Homo sapiens: one gene and its partners. The protein of the gene in region 2 interacts with the protein of the main gene of each other region in a pairwise test. Each region holds a gene or a part of one and is shown on either strand. Other genes may lie near its edges. The genes, in order: PTCHD1, PDZD2 and NRXN1.

What was found.
Region 1: the proteins of PDZD2 (region 2) and PTCHD1 interact in a two-hybrid assay, tested with the Homo sapiens proteins (one study listed by BioGRID and IntAct).
Region 3: the proteins of PDZD2 (region 2) and NRXN1 interact in a two-hybrid assay, tested with the Homo sapiens proteins (one study listed by BioGRID).

The regions. Positions count from the first base shown.
Region 1 is NC_000023.11:23,337,849-23,344,962, forward strand, and holds part of PTCHD1 (patched domain-containing protein 1), read left to right. Parts: intron 1-7,114. UniProt on the Homo sapiens protein: Required for the development and function of the thalamic reticular nucleus (TRN), a part of the thalamus that is critical for thalamocortical transmission, generation of sleep rhythms, sensorimotor processing and attention. Can bind cholesterol in vitro.
Region 2 is NC_000005.10:32,083,130-32,090,243, reverse strand, and holds part of PDZD2 (PDZ domain-containing protein 2), read right to left. Parts: intron 3,114-7,114; coding exon 1-3,113.
Region 3 is NC_000002.12:50,049,041-50,056,154, reverse strand, and holds part of NRXN1 (neurexin-1 isoform alpha4 precursor), read left to right. Parts: intron 1-1,110; coding exon 1,111-1,200; intron 1,201-2,564; coding exon 2,565-2,884; intron 2,885-7,114.

The DNA of each region.
Region 1 (7,114 bases), on a different chromosome or scaffold from region 2:
CTCTTAATGTTTTGGGATTGTACCTGTGCAGTGAAGGAGATCCTTCTTGGGATATTGGTCCCACTATTTGCTGACAAAAAAAAAATAGACTGGGAGGGAGTGATGACAGAAAACGAAAAGCCAGGTTGACGTTTTTAAATGTAATTGAGAGTATTACAGAAAAATATCTGTATTTCAAAAATCCAGCTGATCTGGTTTGGAGGAGCTTTCTCGAATATGCGCAAGTGATATGATTACCATACTCTGACCACTGTAGCTTAGAAGTTGACCCCACACTGTGAGGCATGACTCCCCCCAGCGTTGGTTTCCCCTGAAGGCTACAGGGCAACGATGCATTATTAGGCAAAAGTGGGTAGGACCTGGTGGTGCTGATAAGGGCTCATGCAGTAATTTCTGAACCTCTTTACATACATGCTGCTCTTCAAACATCTTCCTTTTCCTAGAAAATTAAATTTAGCTGATTATATCTTTTAACAGAAGATCCATGATGTTCATCTCAAAGCAAATTTCAAAGGAGGGCCTCACAAGCTTTTATAGATACGTTTCGTTGCGATCACCTAAAATGAAGTGTAAGTAGGTCCCTTTGATAATTGATCCAGGCTGTTAACAAAACAATTCTTGATTTATTCCGGAATCATCTATTTAAAGTGAAGAATCAGTACAGCCCAGTACTTATGATAATGACATCATCTTTATAGGACTTTATAGGTTAGAAATATACAGTATGTTTAAATACAGTAAATTGGGAAAAATGCTATATCCCATTTTACATATGAGAAAACTACTTCTTAGAAGTTAACTGACTTGTCCATGGGAAAAAATACAAGGCTAGAACCAGGACTGGACTGGACCCAGGGTTTTGGACTCCAAGCCCAGTGTGCTTTTCATTGTAATTTACTTTCATATGATACACTACTGGAATGATTTAAAATGTACATTTTTGTTATCCAAATGAAGTACAGTTGACCAAAGTTTTATATCCCATCCCATCCAGTTGTTCTAATAGTGGTAATTGGATCATAAGAATATTTTTCTTGACTGATTCTGTCTAGTGTCAATTAAAATCCACATACAGAAACTCCAAATACCCAAAGTAAAGCATAAGATATTTATAATTAACAATATACAAGGATAGAAAGAAGATTTTTTTGGAAAAAAAATCTCTGGATGATTGAATGTAGCTGCTTCCTGATTGAGTGCTGCTCATTGGCAGGGTCCAGGTTGACTGAACTTTAGTGCCTTACACACTCCCTGGCACATAATAGCTACTCAATAAATACTTGTTGAATAGACCCTCCCTAGTTTACTCAGACATTTATGTGATGAGTTAAAGAAAATTCCATAAAAACGAATTTGAAATGTATTTACATAGTGAAATTTTTATTTTTACAACTTTACAGACAGTTACTAGGATTCTTTGTTTGCAAGATATCATTCTTCCCTCCTTGATAACCCCCGTAGTCATATCAAAGCGTATTTCAGTTTCAAAATTGGGTAGGGGAATTGCCTTTGTACAAAGTCCTCTTCTTCAGGGGAAACTCAGAATGTTTTATTCCAAACCACGGGAAGGACGCATCCTCACATAGCAAACATTCTTCCATTTACTAGGAGATCTCATTTCGCTCAAATATCAAGTTTCTGTTTTACTTAAAGCTTTTATGTTTAAATACATTAAATAGAATTAAGTTGCAAACAAGGTTAATAAAATCTAACCTTAAGTTATTTACTTCAGGCTTTCCAAGAAGGGCAGCATAACTGCTAGCTCGGGGTCACAAAGACTGGGTAGCTAGATCAAGATCATAGTTTTTCCAAATGCTGTCTCAACACTTGCAATCACTATGGGAATCACCATCATTTCTTCCTCCACAATCTAAGGATCAGCAAATTTCAGCCTAGTTTTTAACGTAGACTGAGTTTTTACAGTTTTAAAAGATTATAAACACAACAAAACAAAAACCAAGAAAGCTATATAGCAGAAATTGTGGCTCGCGAAGCCCGAGAGATTTGCTATCTGTACATTCAAAGTTCCTATGTTGTATTCTAAAATGTCATTACTAGAGCACTTTCAAGAAGTTAATACTGTGAATCTGTAAGGCAGTAGTTCTCAACCGGGGCTGACTGTGCACCCACCCAGGGGACATCTGGCAATGGCTGGAGACATTTTTGGTTGTCACAACTTGGGGAAGAGGCATGTGCTACTGGCATCTAGTGGGTAGAGGCACAGCGTAGCCCCCACAACAACAAAATTACCCAGCCCCAAATGTTAATAGTGCCAAGGTGGAGAAACTCTCTGCTTTGCATGTTTCTTTTGTTTTATAAAGATTCTTTTTTTGCTACTTTGATTATGTAAAATGAAAAAATGCCAAAGAGAAGTTCATAGAACTCTGGGGACAACTATTATGACCTCTGAGGTGATGCTCTCTTGGGCAGTTGAGCAGAGACCAGATTTTCCAGTGTAATCGTCCCCAAAATGCAGTTATCTTGCTCTCTTCGATGGCTCTGTCCCTTCAGGTCTAAATCCCACCTGCTGTAGAGGAGCCCAAGAAACTGAATGCAGTATAACTGCTTGAATGACGAAGGGGCTAAGTTGACACTGGCCTTTGAGACTTGTCCATTACTAGAGTGCCCATTATTGGCATGCCTTAAGCATCAGTCAGCAGCAGTCGCCCACTTAGGTCGGGCTTCTTCTGACAGTGTGTAAGACCCCACTGTGAGCAGCGACCTGAGGAGGCAGGAGGCAGTGCTTTGTTGCCTATTCCAGTCTCTCTGCTTTTCCAAGTATAAAATGACAAGAGAAGAGCTTGTATCAAAGAAACACGGAATCAAAGAACCTTCGGTTTAGAAGGCACCTTAAAGGTCATCTCCACAGAGGCTGATGCTAGAATCTTCTCTTAGCATCTCAGGGTGCTTTGTTTGGTGACAGGTGCTATGAAGCCTTGGGCAGTCCAGTCTCTTCTGGTGAGTTATCCAAGTGGCAGATACTCTTAGAAAAGATTGAGCCTGGGCCTGAAAGGGCAGCATTTGTGTATTTGCTGGGTCAGTCAATTGACTTTTACTCTTTATTTTTGTACTAGGGGAAAATTAAGGAGAGACTGAGATCGGTTTTCATTCTCCTTTCATTTCGTAGGTAGTGTATCCGAATAATCTAAGCACAGTCTCATCCTAGGGTTGTCTGACTTTTAAGTACATTTGATTTTTGCGATTAGTATGTAAAATGCCCACTTGTCTCATTTAGATTTGGGGAGCAGTCTTTTAATTCTCCATTTAGGTACACATTTGAGACAAACTTTGATTAAACTGAAATTTAGATATAAAGCCTTAGTGGGAGAGGAAGCCCACCTTTGTAATGACTCATGGCATCTTGATAGATGCCATATTAGAGTTAGGAAAGGATGATTCTATTTTAAATGACCACAAAAACTGAGCCTCTCAGGATTCACCAGACCTATAAAGCTCACAGGACAGTCAAGCATTGAACTGATGACTCCTTAAAAATACGAGAAGGAGAAGTAAGCTAACAGAAGTTATTTGTTTTCTACCTGAGTGTTTCCAGTCCCTTGGCACAAAAGCCAGGGAAATGTGAGATGCTGGTGAGCTGATCAACTTTGACTTTGTGGGATGTGCCATCTGGTACCTGATTTCGGGGCTCAGTGTGAGCCCCAAGTGATACTTGAGATAGGCTTAAAGCAGACCTTTGAAGTCACCTGCTTGATAGCACATCACAGCAAGCAGGCCTGTCTGCAGCACTGCCTGTGTCTCCGCCACATACCCGGAAGGCCACAGAACTACCGAGGAATCCTGCCAGACTGATTTAATGACCAGCAGGGGAGGTGAGTAATCGCTAACCTTTAAAAGACAAGAAAAGGAAAAAAAGAAAATCAACACCAGTTGTTATTTCTTACGGGAAGCCCTGAATAATATGTTGTGCTTGCAACTTCTGAATTCATATTTTGAACAAAAGGAGGCAGTGAGGAACTAGAAAAAGCTATTTTTATCTTCTTGCTCTCTAAGAAATCCTCTTGAGAATATTGTTTCTGCTATTTTGAAAGATCCCCATTGTTAGGTCTTCCACTTTAGGTTTAATTCATAGGCTTCAAGTACAGTTAAGATGATTTATGTAAGTGCAGTCGGTTATCTTGGGAGGTGATATCAGAAAAGGCTGATAGGGGAGTGGGGAAGTAAAACAGTGAGTAGCAGGAAGCCAATCAAGAGAGTATTATTAAGCAAGTGTCTACTGTGGGCAACTGGGGCTCAGTCTCACTAGGGAACTCTGGGAGACACTGTAGAATGTGTTGGAGAAATCTCAGTTGTGGATAAAGAAGCTGAATATTTTCTCCCCAACTCCAGCCATCATCGGCTGATTCAACTACATTTAGAAGCATTAAATTTCTGGCATTTTCATATGCTGTGTTTCTCCCTATATATATATATATATATATATATATATATATATATATATATATTTTTTTTTTTTTTTTTTTTTTAAAAGAATTGGGTACAGAGCTACAGGTGTTTGTGGCAAGCAACCTTAGCATGGAGAGGTGAGTGTGAGCTGAGACTATATGGGTGGGACCCTGAGAGCATCTGCCCTAAGGGTCTTATATTCATCTAGAGTTATACATCGAGAGATTTAGTGCCCCGTTTCTAGGGAATGGATATTCATCCCTTTACTCAACAAGATGGCTATGACCCTGTCTCCATGAAGCTTACAGTTAAGAATCATCCAGCATAGCTATTTAGTTATTCCCAAGTTTGACAAGTGCCAGTGGATGCTGGTAAAGATGACTCCAAACAGGGCCTAGACACCAACAGGATGTGTGGTTTTAGATGCCAGACCTCTACATTTGAGAGGCACATATTCATTCTCACCTTTATGAATACAGAAGTCTGCAGGCCCCCATCTTCACACATCTACTTTTGTTGTTCTCCCTAAAAGTGCCCTCCCTCCTCTCTTTAAGGACCAGTTCACATGCCTTCTACTTTATGAGGCTTTCTCAGATTCATGGCTTCTTCTCTCCCTTAAATCTATTGGGCTTTCATTCTTATACACATTCTTTAATGCAGAGCTGTAGACTCTTATGTAATTTGCTATATTGTCATGTGATCGTTTCTCTTAAGAGAGGTAATGAACTCTTCAGGGGCAGGAACAATGTCTGACACTGCCAGATCTCTCCTAGAGCCTAGCATAATGTGGAGTTTGCAGCAGGTGCTTAATAAATTGTTACTGGTTTATAGCTTGTAAGATGGAAAATGTGCTCTGCCTCCCTATTGATTTATTTTGGTCAAATATAATTTTGCCTGGTAGCATGACCATGTGATTTCTTGTGCTCTATATTCATTTTTCATCTTTGACAAATCTTGGTTTCAAACTTGTTGATAAGCAATAAGCATCCATTCTGTTTCCAGATCTGCTGCCATTTATATGAGGAGAAATTCTTGGAAAACCAAATATCTGACAACCTTCTCTGGTCCAAGTACAGTTTGGGAGGGTATGAACTTGACCTCAGTCCCCAATCAGTGGTGCATTTCCATGTGGGAGGGTGGATCCCTGTGCAGTTCCCAGTGAGCACCCTGGAACCCAAGTCCCCACACTACACATTCCCTTATTTACTTAAAGAAAAGTCTCAAAACATTGGCCACACCCATATTCAAATGTAAATAGGAAACACACTTAAAAGAAAACATCAAGGACAAGTGGTTTTCCTGACCATAGCACCAGTGTTCAGGAGATCACCATTCTGATGTTGCTTAGTCCCACTCTTCTTAAAAGTTAGCCCAGAGGAACAGAAAGTATTGTTCTAAGAGGCAAACTTAAAAGAAAATGATACTGGTACAAAATCAGCATATTTCTGTGAGTTTAATGGAAACACTAAAACTGCTAATTTTTCAGCGTGGAAGATAAAGATTCCTTTACCCATTCCTCCATGAGGCTCTCCTGCTGTCACTAATACCATGGCTTTGTCAATTCTTTCTAATTGTCTCAAGAAAAAATAATGCATCTCTGCTATAGAGCTGTCATTATAAATGCTCAAGAACATTTTGTGATATTTATACCTTAATTGTATGAGGTTTGAGTTGTTGGATTTTGTTTTTGGTCTTGTGGTATAGGCAAGTAGTCCTACTGAGTAAAGATTGTTTGATTGCTCTCAGACTTTCTAACATGCACACACGTCACCTAGGCATCTTGCTAAAATACAGACTGATTCAAAGGGTCTGGGGTGGGAACTGCAAGTCTGCATTTCTAACAAGATCTGAGGTGATGCTGATGCTACAGATCAGCAGAACACACTTGGAGTAGCAAGGCTCAAATTTAACTGTTGTAAACAGAAAACTGGATTTAGAATCAGGAAAGCCAAGTTCAAGTTCCAGTTCTCCTAAGTATGTATCTTTGGGCAAGTCACCTAACCTCCCTGAGAAACACGCTCCTTATTTGCACTGGGTGTAATAGCATCTCTTTCACCCACTTAAGGTAAAGATAGAATGAGATAAAGTATGTGAAGGCACTGTGTAACCATAGCCTTCTGTAAAGTGTGTTATCATTATTACTATTTACTTTGAAAATGACTGCTATTTCCTCACATGTGCCAGCTCTTTCAAAGCCATTATTGCCTGTTGAGTAATACACATGTAGCCACTTTTTTCTTTGATCCAACAGGCAATAATGGGTGCTCAAGCTACATTCAATACTCATATTGCCAATTTGTTGGTCTTTAATGACTCCATCTGAGTCATTACAGACAATTGGATTCAACCTACTGCTGAGCATGCAGCTCCTCTACCTGCAGAAAGTTCTTAGGCAGGCAGAGCTGCGGATGGGGATGGGTGCATTGCATTCCAGCACACCAACGTGGTTCCTCTGGGCTCAGAACCTACTCTTCATGCCTGATGGGGCTTTGCACACAAAAAAAGCCTTCACTTCCTGCCCAGGGAAGTGCCTTTTGAATTAAAGGTTCTGAGAGGCTGCGGGCTCTGGTTTCAGGGCTCTCCTCACCACATCTCACAGCACAGCATGCCAAAGAGGGATTCTCCAGTGATTTAGGTGAGAACGTTGATCATTCTCCTCTCTTACTGAATTTACATGACTACAGTGTTTCCCTGGGAAATCTCGTCCACA
Region 2 (7,114 bases):
TCTGGATGCCTTTGCCTCGGGGACAACACTGCTTGTCACAGGGACCTGGCTGTCCCGAGAGCGACCCAGGCTGTGTGGGGGGTGACCCTCCCGTCCAAAATGGCTTGAGAACTGGGCTGGCATGGAGTAGGTCCTGGTCGCTGGCCTTGGGGTGAAGTAGAGATGGTCCTCCCCCGAGGGGCCCCCTGGAATGCTGTTTCTGGGCACCCCTCGGGAGTCTGACATCAGGCTTGATTTTCCCTGGGAGTATTCTGCCTTTCTAATGGCTGTTTGAAGGGAGGAGGAGGAGGACGCCAGTTTTGCCATGCTGAATGATCGTGACATTTCCTGCTCTGCCTGGGAGGCATGAGATGGGAGTGAGGATGGATGACTTGTGGATGATTCTGCGACCTGGCGATAGAGCCTGATTTCACTCTTCTCCTGACAGTTGCCCTGGGCCAAGCACCCTCCCCGTCTGTCGCTTTCAGCTGGCTTGTTACCACATACAGTCTCTGACACTGCTTCAGCAGAAATCTCCACGATTTTCAGCTGGTTTGTTCTTTCGAGGCGATCGCTGGCCATTATGTTGCCTCCTTTTTCGCCAGTCGGCCTGGGTTGGGCTGTGTCTGCTGCCACATGGCTGGCCAGGCGCGGCTCACTCTGTCTGTTCCCTGCCACGGACATGCCGTTCCTAGACGCTGCCGGACTCACCGGCCCGGAGTCAGCACGGGGCGCCCTGCCCTCTGCTCTACACTTAGGAGATTTAGGGGTGGTTGGGCAACCTCTGTCGGGTTCAGAGAGGACAGCCATGTGGAACCTGCTCCACATGCCTTGCTCAGGAACAGGCTTGGGAGAGGTCAGGGGCGAGACAAATGTCCTGATGCTCGTGTCAGACACTGAGGGTTTCAGTGGCCCAGAGGTGGCAAGAGGTGGCTTGCTTTCCAGCACACACTGGGGGGACCTGGGGGCAGCTGTGGTGTTTCTGTCAGGGTCCTCGTGGTCGGCTACATGGAGCCGCTGTGACACTGCCTTAGAAAGTGTTTTGTGGGAGGTCTGGGGTGAGATCAAGGGTTTCCTGTGGTCCGTCCCCCCAGCCTTCACAGCATTCGCAGCAGGGGCCTCAGAGTTGACTTTGGCCTTGCCCTTGAGGCTGAGCCTCTTCAGCTTCGGACCACACTTTGCCTTCTGACCATTAGTCAGAAGCATTTCTGCCGGACTCTTCTTAGACAGGTCCTTATTTTCCAGGTTTGTTTTCGGCTGAGGAGGGCTATGAGGCACAGTAACGCCCTTTTTTTGGCTTGAACTCACCATCTGAATCTTGGAGTCGGGACTTCTGGCAGGCATTAGAGGTTGTTCCTTCTCGGTTTTGCTCCTCAAATGTGTGCCTTGGTTATGTTTATTTATTTCTTTAAACCAGGCCATGATGGGCCTCCTAGCGATCATTTTTGGTTTCTGTAGCAAGTCATCCAGGTCTTGACTTTCAGAGATGTGGAGGTTTTCCAAAACAGATTCTCCATTCTTAGGGACATCCACACTGAAGGAGGACAGACTGGCAGCTGCATTAATGCTTGTTTCGTATTGATTCAGGGTTTCGTCATCTAGCAGGTCATGTTCCAAGCCATTTACCATGTTGGGGGAGCTGAGAATGATGGGCGGACTGTGAAAATGCCTGGCTACTTTAGACAGCGGACTGTTTTCCATGGCTGAGCTAGCGCTGGTGACTTCTGTGGTTTCTTCTGCACACGAGGGCCTGTGGTTCTGTGAAGTGCTTATGTCCGCATGAGTTTCATGCTCCTGAGAGCTCATCTCCAAGAGTGATGATGGCTGGGAAGAGTCTGGGCCTGAAGTGTATGAGCCTGGCAAGCAGGCGGCCTTCTCACGGGGACTGGCCACCGACTCTCTCGGAGTGCTGTATTTTAATGACAGAACTTTGGCTGAGGCAGGACAGATGGCAGCCTGGGTGGGAAGATGAGCAGGACTCGAGGGTGGATTGGGGCAGCCACGTGTGGAACAAATCTCAATCTGTTCCTCTTCTGACTCCGAAGGATCTTCCTTGTGCAAAGACACACGGGAACGAGGAGGGGACCAGCCGTCCCTGGCAGAAGCTCGTGGGGCTTCAGTGAGTGACTCAGGGTCAGAAGAAGAATCCTCAGCATCGCCATACATGGATGACAGAGACGGCTCCGTGCTGTCACCCAGGCCTGATAGGGAGGTGCTGTCTTCATGAAAACTGCTAAAATTTCTAGAGTAGTTGCTCAGAAAGTTTTTGTTCACAGTAAAATGTTTGTCGGGATTAATTGAATCTAAAACCGAAGGCTGGGAGGCCCATTGTGGGTAGGCGGGGGCACCAGCAGCCCAGGCCCTCCTCGGGGAGGAGGTCTGGCCCCCCGGGACTGGTTCGGCACGGCAGGAGCTCCCACCTCCAGCCCCGGCTGGTGGGTGGCCCTGAGCACTGCCCTCCTGAGAGCCACTGTCCCCCGTCTGGGAAGACGGAGACCTTGCTGCAGAAGCATCCAGCTCCTTGATGAAGCTGTCAATGTCCGTCACAGGGCTCTCTCTACTCCCCCCTGGGCAGCAGTGCCCCGAGACATGGCCACATGCTTCTTTGGTGTTGTCAGTGGATGGCAGCATGGAGAGGCTGGCCTGCGGTGCCCTTGAGGACACAGAATCTGCTCCCTCCAGCAGGGAAGGCTCCTGGGAGCTTTCAGGTGCATGGATTCCTGTCATTTCCAGAGCCTTACTGTGGTTACCTGGAGCTCCCTGTCTCTGCTCCTGGGATGTGAGGGGGTCTCCTGGCAGGACAGCACCAGCTGGTGTCATTCCCTCTGCTCCAGGTCCCGCTCCCCTGAGGGCAGCCACCCTCCTGGTATTGTGGGGTGTGCTGGTTTCCGATGCTGATCGAGTCTTGCTGTAGTCAGGGGGAGCCGCTGCTTTCTCCCCCGGGGAGGGGCTGCCCTCATGGGGGAGCCTGACTGGAGACCTGGCCTTGCACTTGGTGACCCTGGGCGATGCAGGCTGGCTGGGATTCTCTGGCCGACTGACTTGCCCTGTGTCTACAGAGGTCTTGCTGGGGTCAGGATGAGCGGCCCCCTTCTTCCCTGGGGAAGAGATGAGGTCTGAGGAGCTGTCCAGTTCTACGTGGGGAACGTAAACAGAAGGTACATACACAGGAGAGGTTGTAGGGGAGATAAAAGGGATAATATAAGAAAGCAGCCCCTCAATTATTAAAAACTAGAAAATTATAAACAACCTCAAATATTTTTTTCTTTTTCAGAAAGCTGGGCGTGGTGGCGCATGCTTGTAATCCCAGCACTTTGGGAGGCGGAGGCGGGTGGATCACCTGAGGTCAGGAGTTCGAGACCAGCCTGGCCAACATGGTGAAACCCCATCTCTACTAAAAAAAAAAAAAAAAAAAAAAAAATTAGCTGGGCATGGGGGTGGGCACCTGTAATCCCAGCTACTTGGGAGGCTGAGGCAGGAGAATTGCTTGAACCTGGGAGGTGGAGGTTGCAGTGAGCCGAGAATGTGCCATTGCACTGCAGCCTGGGCAAAAAGAGCGAAACTCCGTCTCAGAAAACAACAACAACAACAACAACAACAAAACGGCGTTCTGTGGCCTAAATGGAGGCCCTTCTTGTCTTCCTGGTTTTCTCTCTAAAATTATAGAGTACCCACATCTAACAAATACCACCCTGCTTTAGACGCTCTAAGAGAACTCAGATTAGCCGGCAGAAGAAACATTTACATCTGCCCATTTTTCTCTCTTTTGGTATTTCTATGATGGCAGATGTTCCTACCACAAAGAAATGATACATTTGATGTGATGGATATGCTGATTACCCTGATTTAATCATTGCACACTTGGGTCTCTTTATGCCATTCACCCTCTGATGGCAAAGCCGCAAGCGTCAGGCTCTTGTTCTATTTGGTTCCCTACTCCTGCGTGGATGCAGCAGGGCCCTCATGGACCTCTCAGTCCCAGTATCTGGCCAGTGGTGTGTGGGTTTGGCTCACACTGGGGGATGTGAATGATGTACTTCAGTGTAAAACAGTCCAAGTGCCGAGCTCAAGAGGCTTCCTTTTTAGTGCAGGGGCTGAGGCTAACTAGGGAAAACATACAGAATACGAAAGCTGGGATACAGGTCTACACCGAGCTCTGGCTGTCTTGACGAATTCAGAGGAGTGGGAGAGTGAGAAGCCAGATTATCCCAGGAAGACTTGACAGAGGAGGTGGGGACATGAATGGGGCTGACAAGGGGAGTTTGGCCAGAGAGTGAGGAGGAGGAAGGTAAGGAAGACAATGGAAGAGTACCGTTAAAATGTCCATACTACCCAAAGTCATCTATAGATTCGGTACAATTCCTACCAAAATTCCAATGACATTTTTTACAGAAATAGAAAAAAAAAAAACAGTTGTAAAATGTGCATGGAACCACAAAGGACTCTGAATAGCCAAGGCAGTTTGAGTGTAAAAAAAACAAAAGACAAAACAAAACAACAACAACACAACAAAAACAGGGCTGGGCATGGTGGCTCACGCCTGTAATCCCAGCACTTTGGGAGGCCAAGGCGGGTGGATCACCTGAGGTCAAGAGTTCGAGACCAGCCTGGCCAACATGGTGAAATTCCCGTCTCTACTAAAAATACAAAAATTAGCTGAGTGTGGTGGCACACGCCTGTAATCCCAGCTACTTGTGAGGCTGAGGCAGGAGAATCGCTTGAACCTGGGAGGTGGAGTTGCAGTGAGCCAAGATCATGCCATTGTATTCCAGCCTGAGTAACAGAGCAAGACTCCGTCTCAAAAAAAAAAAATAATAATAAGGTATTGCATTTATTGAAATAGCTAGAAGAGAGAATTTGGGATGTTCCTACCACAAAGACATGATACATTTGATGTGATGGATATGCTAATTACCCTGATTTAATCATTGCACAATGTATATATGTACTGAAGTACCACTTTGTGCTCCATAAGTATGTACAATTATGTGTCAATTAAAAAAAAAAAAAGGCAGCTGGGCACGGTGGATCACGCCTGTAATCCCAGCACTTTGGGAGGCCAAGGCAGGTGGATCACTTGTCAGGAGTTTGAGACCAGCTTGGCCAACATGGTGAAACCCTATCTCTACGAAAAATACAAAAATTAACCAGGCATGGTGGCATGCACCTGTAATCCCAGCTACTTGGGAGGCTGAGGCACGAGATTCGCTTGAACCCAGGAGGTAGAGGTCAGTGAGCTGAGATTGCACCACTGCCTTCAAGCCTGGGCAACAGAGCAAGACTCTGTCTCAAAAAAAAAAAAAAAAAAAAAAAAAAGGCAACAGAATGAAAGCAGAGAAGCAAGAAAGAGCCTGAAATCTTGGAGGTGGCAGGGCAAGGGGATGTGTGCCAGTGGACAGTGGGAAGTCATCTAGGAGGTGGGTTCCAACAGCCACTCACTCCTGAAAGTGCCTGTTCATAAGGCCCTGCATAGTCTTGGGCTAATCTTCCACCTCAGACACACAGCATCTTGCAACAGGGAAAAAAAATCTGGCATCAGAAAGAACAAAGCTATTTTCTTAGGAACTATGGGTCTGAGGTTGGAGTGAAAAATGAAGTTCCATGAAAGCTCTTGGTTTGAGAATTAAGTCAAACCAACTCTTCCCCAAATATTATGTTCGTTCCACAGCTCTCACATAAAATCATCTTAATTGCATTTTTTTAACCTGCTGACCTTGCTATGTGAATAATTAAGAACTAATTATTAGGACTCAGCCCTGTGCTAAGAGGTTTTCCAATAATTAAGGAGTTAACACTGTGCTAAGAGTTTTGTACACATTTAATTTTCCTCCTAACACTGAGGTATGTCCTGTGACCATCTGCATTGGAAGGATGAGGACGGAGAAACAGCGTGGTTAAGCAATGTGTCTGAGGTCAGAGTTCACAGGTGGCAGAGCCAGCGGTCGCCCCAGGAAGCTGGCTCCACAGCCCATGCTACTGCCTAAACCCTGACTATGTGGCCTCTGTGTGGAGAGCCCTTGGCAATCAAAAGGTTGGATCGTCGAGATCCCCATGGAGACCGTACTAGCTACTAGCTTTCCAGGCCCACTGTGGAAGGCCAGGGGCCTGCCAAGACTCAAAGCCACGTGCTCTTCTCCTTCTCTGCTCAACCTTTTTTGAACTTCCCCTTAAGCATAATGTTCCTGCTTCTGGTGACAGCAAATATGGGCGGTAGTGCGGGTGGTGGTGGGGAGTAGCAATGACACAAAAGGAGGGGATTTAAACTCTGTTTTTAAATTTCATATTCAGGCCGTGGGCGGTGGCTCATGCCTGTAATCCCAGCACTTTGGGATGCTGAGGCCAGGCAGATCACTTGAGGTCAGGAGTTCGAAACCAGCCTGGCCAACATGGGGAAATCCCATCTCTACTAAAAATACAAAAATTAGCCAGGTGTGGTGGTGCACGTCTGTAATCCCAGCTGCTTGGGAGGCTGAGGCAGGAGAACTGCCTGAACCTGGGAGGCGGAGGTTGCAGTGAGCCGAGATCGAGCCACTGTACTCCATCCAGCCTGAGCGACAGAGCAAGAATCCGTCTCAAAAATAAACAAATTTCATATTCGCTCACTGAATAAACCTAAACAGGCAATTCATGTTAGCAATTTGACTTTATTGCAAAGTCTGTAACTTAAAAGGTCTTCATCTGAGGGAGACGAGGTTACACTGAGGCAGCCTTTGGTTGTCACCTTTCAAGACAACCTTTTCTCTGGAAACGTTCGAAATGCCCAATCATGGGAGGAAGGTTGACTCGTTACAGCACATCCGTGGGGTGGAAGGCCCAGCAGCCTCTCCAGGTGATGTCGGGTGTAGAAGAGCCTGCAGGATAGCAGTGCGGTTTCCTAGAGTAGGCTATGGGTGTGCTGACAGCAGAGTGGTCAGTGCGAGGGACAGCCTGCTAGGTCAGGCCCATGGGCTGAGGAGCAGTCTTACTGATGCCAGCAGGCTGCTCAAATATTATTTCGTGTGGATGTATGAGGTTTAAAAAGGTTGTTAGGTACTGGTGACTACCACAGTGGATTTTTTTTTTTTTTTTGGCAAAAAGACAAAAAAAGCACAGGACTATATATTTATTCACACCCATATACGCACAAGACTCAAAT
Region 3 (7,114 bases), on a different chromosome or scaffold from region 2:
TTTCACCTCTGAGTCCTCATCTGAGCTAATGCCAAAATGTCTTGGCTTAAATTTCCATGTTAGTTAACTCTAATGGAATAGAAAATCTCTTCTTGCATTATACACAACTCAACACCGAGATGGTGTCTCAGATTCTTCGTAAGTGCTCTACAGATCAAGAAAACACTCATCTATTTGCAAGCAATATTCAAGGTCAATTTAAACAGTGTTTCTAGCAGATAATTTTTTATGCAAAGAAGCAGGGCTCTCACTTAGGTTAGATCTATGAATAGGGGCCACTGTTTGTGGCTTATATTCGTTCCTTAAGCTGTCATGCTTTTAAAGAATAACTTAATAAAAAGCAGATATTTGACTATATAAAAACATACATATAATTATTTTTTCAAATGTTATTTGCTTCAACATGTTAAGCTTTAAATGAAACTCAAGGACACTCAAATAAAGTGACTTTTGTCAAAGCCTTTTCCTGTAATAACGTATCTGGATGATGCAAGATGCATTCTCTTGTGATGTCCAAGTGATTGATAAATCAATTTGTGTGAAATACACAAGAACTATTTGGACTTTGTTGTTTTCTTAAATGAGGTGAATAAGAATTTCTGTTTTCTGACTAGGAAATAAAGTATGCTAGGCCTATTGTAGATGCTTCAGTGTGCCAAATATGGTATTAAGTTTGGTGATCATAAATTATTAATCTGGAATAAGAGGTTGAATGTATTTTGAAAACTTAAACCTGTTTCACCTGAACATGTTTAACTAGTTAATAAGAAACATCAAAAAGACAAAACCCTGAGGTCATTGGTCATTTTTTGTAAAGCTATTATATGCTGTTTAAATTGGTTGTTCGGGTCTGTCTATAACATAAGTTTAATAACCTAGCTCAAATGCAGATTTCTAATTTTCAATTAACATAGGAATAATTTTGTTTGCTAAAATAAAATAAATGAATGAATGACAAGTCTGAAACATGAAATGTTCTAGGTAGAACTTTTTAAAATTCCAAATTTCAAAAAATCATGTGGCAACTGTATAGCTCAATCTTTAAGTATTAACTTTTAACCTTTGACCTTACAGATTTTAACCAATGAAATGTCTCTTTAAACTTTAAAGGAAACAATGATAACGAGCGCCTGGCGATTGCTAGACAGCGAATTCCATATCGACTTGGTCGAGTAGTTGATGAATGGCTACTCGACAAAGGTAAAAAACATTGATTAAAACTTCAAATAAAAAAATAATTTGAACATAACCAAGTAGTACTTCATTGTAACACTAATAAACATAAAAAATAAATTTTCCGTAAAACTAAATTAAAAACAACTTTAAAACAGTAAAATGTAGATAGTAATATTTGCATACCTTGTATAATAATTTCTATACATTTTTAGACGTACCAGCTGTTTAATAATCTTACCCAGTTAACTTAAGGTTAAAGGGACTGTTAAATATAATCCACTAACTCAATCTATGAGGGTACTCACAGCAAGCATTAACCCAAAATGATAAATCATTCATAGACTATATTACATGTTCCAGCCTCTAAATTATTAACTAAAATATATGTAGTTCTGATATCTTTATTATGGTCCTGAAAAAAACAAAAACTCTTTGTTTAAACTCTAGGAATCTTAAATAGTGGGCAATATGAATTGCCAGTCATAATGAAGTCCCTTTAACATTTGCAACCTTCTAAGAGGATTTGGGAACAAGCCCATATTAAAACTGAACTTAAAGTTGTGTGCATGCTTTTATGAGCAGAGAGCAATCTGCTAAAACTGGATACTCAATTTGATGATAATGGTACTGTTATTAAGGATTGCTGTTTGATGGAAATGTGCCATAATTTCTCCATCGGTTTGTGTATCATTCCTGAAGCCGCTTTTTACATCTGAAGCTATTTTTTTTTTTCATTTTGTTTTGTTTTGATAGACTTGCTGAAAGCCAATCAGAAAAATATTTTTGGAATTTTTTTGTCTCTGACATGCTCAGTGTAAACCATGAATTTCTTTTCAGTGTGATTGCCGGAAAAATAGAATAATTCAAATAACAATGAATAATTGCCTTCAAAAAATAAACAGCACTAAAGAATAACATATAGATATATGTGGACATTATGTGAATTATGAAATTTTTACCATAAAATTTAAATTAGATTTCAGCTGCTATGTATTAGTTTCTGTCAGTGGTAATTTCAGAATGACAAATACTTGAAATGTTGTCTTACATTTTTAAAATTTAACAATTTAGACTTTAGACACCAACAATATAAGATCTTGATGTAAAAGGGAAAAGGGATCCACTAAAAACTGATTTGTAATACATATCTTTGATTGGTCTTTTAGCAAAAGCACTACATTTATAATAAGTTGAGAATTTACAAGTATTTGCCAATAATTATGCATTTCATGGACACCTCATTTATAAGCAATGAATTATGAGTCAAATGCCTCTCTTATAGTTTATTGCTCTCATTATTCACCCCATAAAAGATCTGTTTTATCATCCATTGTAGATATAGAGTTCACAATCAACATTTTTGCATGTATGTAATATTATTTTTACAGGGCGTCAGCTCACAATCTTCAATAGCCAAGCAACCATAATAATTGGCGGGAAAGAGCAGGGCCAGCCCTTCCAGGGCCAGCTCTCTGGGCTGTACTACAATGGCTTGAAAGTTCTGAATATGGCAGCCGAAAACGATGCCAACATCGCCATAGTGGGAAATGTGAGACTGGTTGGTGAAGTGCCTTCCTCTATGACAACTGAGTCAACAGCCACTGCCATGCAATCAGAGATGTCCACATCAATTATGGAGACTACCACGACCCTGGCTACTAGCACAGCCAGAAGAGGAAAGCCCCCGACAAAAGAACCCATTAGCCAGGTGAGCCTGTGGATTTTATTCCTTCATTTTCATCCTATATTATTTATGATAGTGGGCTTTTCTGCATATGCGTCTTTTCTAAATTGGAACATTTTTCTGATCTTAGGCACTACAGCTTCCTTTGAAACTAGCTTAACATAATGCATTCCGTTTGAATATGAAATGTGTGTATGTTGTTCATTAGAGGTTTGTGGACTTTTACAAAAGATTTTGTTTTGGTTTGTTAGATGCTAAATGATAGTCTTGATTCCATAACCCTCCTCTGGCCCAAGCTGAGTAGATCGTCTGCTAATTACATAGGATTTTCACTTTTTAGTTTAAATGAACAAGTTAATGAAATATTTGAAAACCTTGTCTGTTTAAGCTCAGCACTTCAAAATAAAATCAAGGCAAATTTAATCTTAAAAGAGATATTTTAATAGTACAATACTTCTATAGTATTTTGAAGTTTAAAGTTTTGAATTGATAGCCAGCCATGTGGCTTTCTTGGTGAATGATGGGTATACTCTTTCACTATTTATTTAAAAATAAAAAAACATTCTATTGGTTTATCTGAGCACACAAACCCAAAATATGAGGTATTTTGTGTATGTGATTAATTGCCCTCACCTACAATTAACTCTAATTAGCTTATTTCAATCTTGTGCCTAAAATTTTTGAAGAATATGATTTTTAAATGTGGCATTTGCACAACTTGGAAGTATGTTAATTCAATCAGGACATAATTATTGATTGCCTACTACATTTCAGGCACTGGTTTGAATATTGGTGTTCCATCAGTGAAGAACACAGGGAAAAAAAAACCTTATTCGAAATGCTGTTAGATGCTGTTCAAATGCCATTAGATTCCTGTTGGTATTTGCAGCCTTTGTATGTATCCAGTTGTTAATTTTTTCAGAATTGTGTATTATCCTTGGTCCAAAATTAATTGTTTCGTTTTGTTCTGTTTTACTGATAGTGAGTATATTCAGTAGGTGCCATTTAAAGCTTTTCCAAATACACGATCCCTACTTTTCCAGAAAAATGCATTCTGAAGAAGCAAGAATGATAATTATATTTAAATTTGCTTTTACTTCTTGCATTTGAAACAGACCTGCATCCAGTTTGGAAGGAAAATAATAGAAGGCAAATTCTGTTTGTATCAGCACCCCAAATATGAATTAACATGTTTCCCAGAAAATGAAGAAAATTGACTCTGATTTTTACTTTGAATGGAAAAGGGTGAGAGGAACAGAATAGATGAAGAGAAAATGTCCTAGAAGAGGGATGGGCAAAAAATACAAAAAATGCAAATTAAATGTAGTGTTGGATATATTGTACCTACATGTGCACTTATTTTCATTTTTCTCTCTTTTCTTTTCGTTTCCTATTTGCATGTGGCTACAAAATAAAATGGGATGTCTTATAGGGTGTTCACAAATATATATTTATTGATCACTGTCTACATGTGCCAGATACTTTTCTAGGCATGAGGATATATTGGTAACAGCAAACGAAACCCCTGCCCTCAAAGAATATACATTTTAGTAGGACTGTTTGCCTGCAATGTGATCCTTTTGTTGATTTTCTCTCGTTAGGATTTATAAGGTTGCCAATAACATCATAGCACTTAGTTCCTTGGATAAAGACTTGTGACTTTAGAAAGATTTATGTTTGCCCAATAGCTCCATTTAACATTCTTTGCTAATGTTTCATTAATGATTTGTTACTGCTGTAGATTTATGGTTCACTTACTGATAAGCAAGTTATTACAGTAAATCTGATACAGGAAAAATGAAACAAATAAATTGATAGACTTTCCTTTATCTAAAATAATTCACAAGAGGACATTCAGAGTTAGGAATGCTTTTATGAATATAATTTGAAATAATCAGGTATTTTTCTTAGTAGTCTTGTTTTATCATTAATGAGATTACAGTTGCCAAATCTCCTATATAAACCAGGTGTGTCCCAAAAGAAGAAAATATTATCAGCATTGGTTTTATGTATTTTGTCAATTAGTAACATATATTAAGAAATATTATTTTTAAGTACAAAACAGCTGTTTCATTTGAAAGCTAAATACGTAGAAATGCAGAAATAAAGATTTATGCATTTTATAATATTAAAATGCAGAAGGTAAAGAGTTAACTGCTCCTTAATTGCCAATGAAAAGAGCCTCTTTTATTATAAGCTATTACATGTTTGAAGACAGCAGCAGTTTATAGATGTAAATGATCTAATTAATTAGTGAATACTTGGTTCATTTGAGGAGATATTGACTTAAATAAAAGATTATTAGGTTCATTTAAAAATAGATATTTAAAATTGTTAGCTTTGTAATAAACCAGTGACAGTAATTAAAGAATTTGACTTAATATGTTACAAGTATTCAGTAGTAGCAACAGTATTTTAAAGTTGGGCTAATAGGTTTTAAAAGTCTCTTAAGTAGTGAGATATATATATGAATACAGATAACAACACATGTATGTATGGGGAAAAAACATTAGGGAAGAAAGCAATTTATTTATATTTGAGTGACAGAATAATTTGTTGAAAATTTTCCATAATTCGTAATTGACTTTTCAATTGTCCTCTAAATACAGTAATATTTAAACCAGGAAGTTTAAATATGAGATAAATTTCTAATGTTAATTTCGAAACTGTAAACTTTGACCTATTTTTACAGGTTGGATGAAGCATCTTCCTTTAAATGTTGTCTATAGTGGCCATATCCGCCTGCTTTTATCAACTGTCTTACTAAATTGTGTATCAGAAAGGGTCATTTCATTTTTCAAAAGCCACACTGGACTGTTTTCTCAATCAAAGTGCATTTTTCTCAGTGATAACACTGAGCCACTTAAGCTACAATGGCAATGTACCTTGGGGTGATTGCATGTTTTAAAACTATGGAAACAGATTTTTGGTCAGGCAGAATTAAATTGGACTCATTTCAAATAGATGAGATGAGGTTTGTTCAGCCATCCTGCAGGGATAGTAATAGGGAAGAAATGTATTTCAGTTTTCACAGACTCAGAGAATATAGTAGTGTTCATCAAAATATCCTCCATAAAGTCCTGTTTATATTCCTACTTAAAGTAAATATCCTTTTAAAAGTAAAAAAAAAAAAAAGAAGTTTTGCTTTGAATGATAATCAATTTTCAGCCCAATGTTTACTTTAGGAAGATGTGATTTATATCAAGAAATAATAGGGACATTTACCAAAACTTCTGATCGAATTGTTCCTTTTTAATGTGAATATAACAATATTGATAGTACTTTTTATGTGGATTACATAAAATTTATAAAATTTATAAAATTCATTTTACTTGGAATATTTAATTTTTAAATGTTTCCATAAGGCCTCCTGATTTTATGAAACTTTCCAGAAGGCTAATCTCAGAAAGCAAATATTCACAAAAACTATTGGTGGTATAAAGTTCTTTGAGATTCTGAGAGCTTCTTGGCATGTGGCAGGAGTATCATGCAAGTTTTTTGGCTGCTAAATGTTCCCCCTCTTCTAATTAAACTTGCAATGTCTTATGAGATGAGTACATGTAAGCCAACATGAAGAGGACAACACTTCCTTCCTTTGCCTGTCCACAAAGAAAGGAAAATTGAACTGTGCTGTTTCTTTTACGATCAAGCTTGTGACATCGTTTCTGGAATGTTCTTTATAGCACATTTTACGATCTTTTTGTTCTTTCCTTCGAGAATATTTTACAAGCTACATACATACTATAGAGAATACATACATACTGTAGAGAGATTGTAGTATAATGGAAAGAGCATGATGAATGAGGAGACCTGGTTTCCACTTTCAACACAACCACCTATCTCGTCATGTGACTTGGACAACTTGGGTCACATCATTGTACTTTGGCCTTGCTGCCTCTGTAAAATAAGTAGGTTGAACTAGGAAACTCTTAAGTTGTACTCAGCTCTAAGATTTCTTTGATTCTAGTGATGATGCTCTTAATTAGGTCTTCTCATGATTATTTACCAAAACATAGATTTCACCTCTGTCTTCCATCATGTGGCCATGCAGCCCAGTTGGCCTGGATAGTACCTGTGCATACCTGATGTTCAGTGTAATTATTAATAGTATATTTTTGACTCTCAAAAGTATGCCATTTGGTCTATAAATTATATTATACTCTACTTTTACAGCATATCCAAAATTTACCTTTGCAAGAAAAGCATACTTCATAAGAATAATACATATTATGTCCTGTTCTTTATATTCAGAGC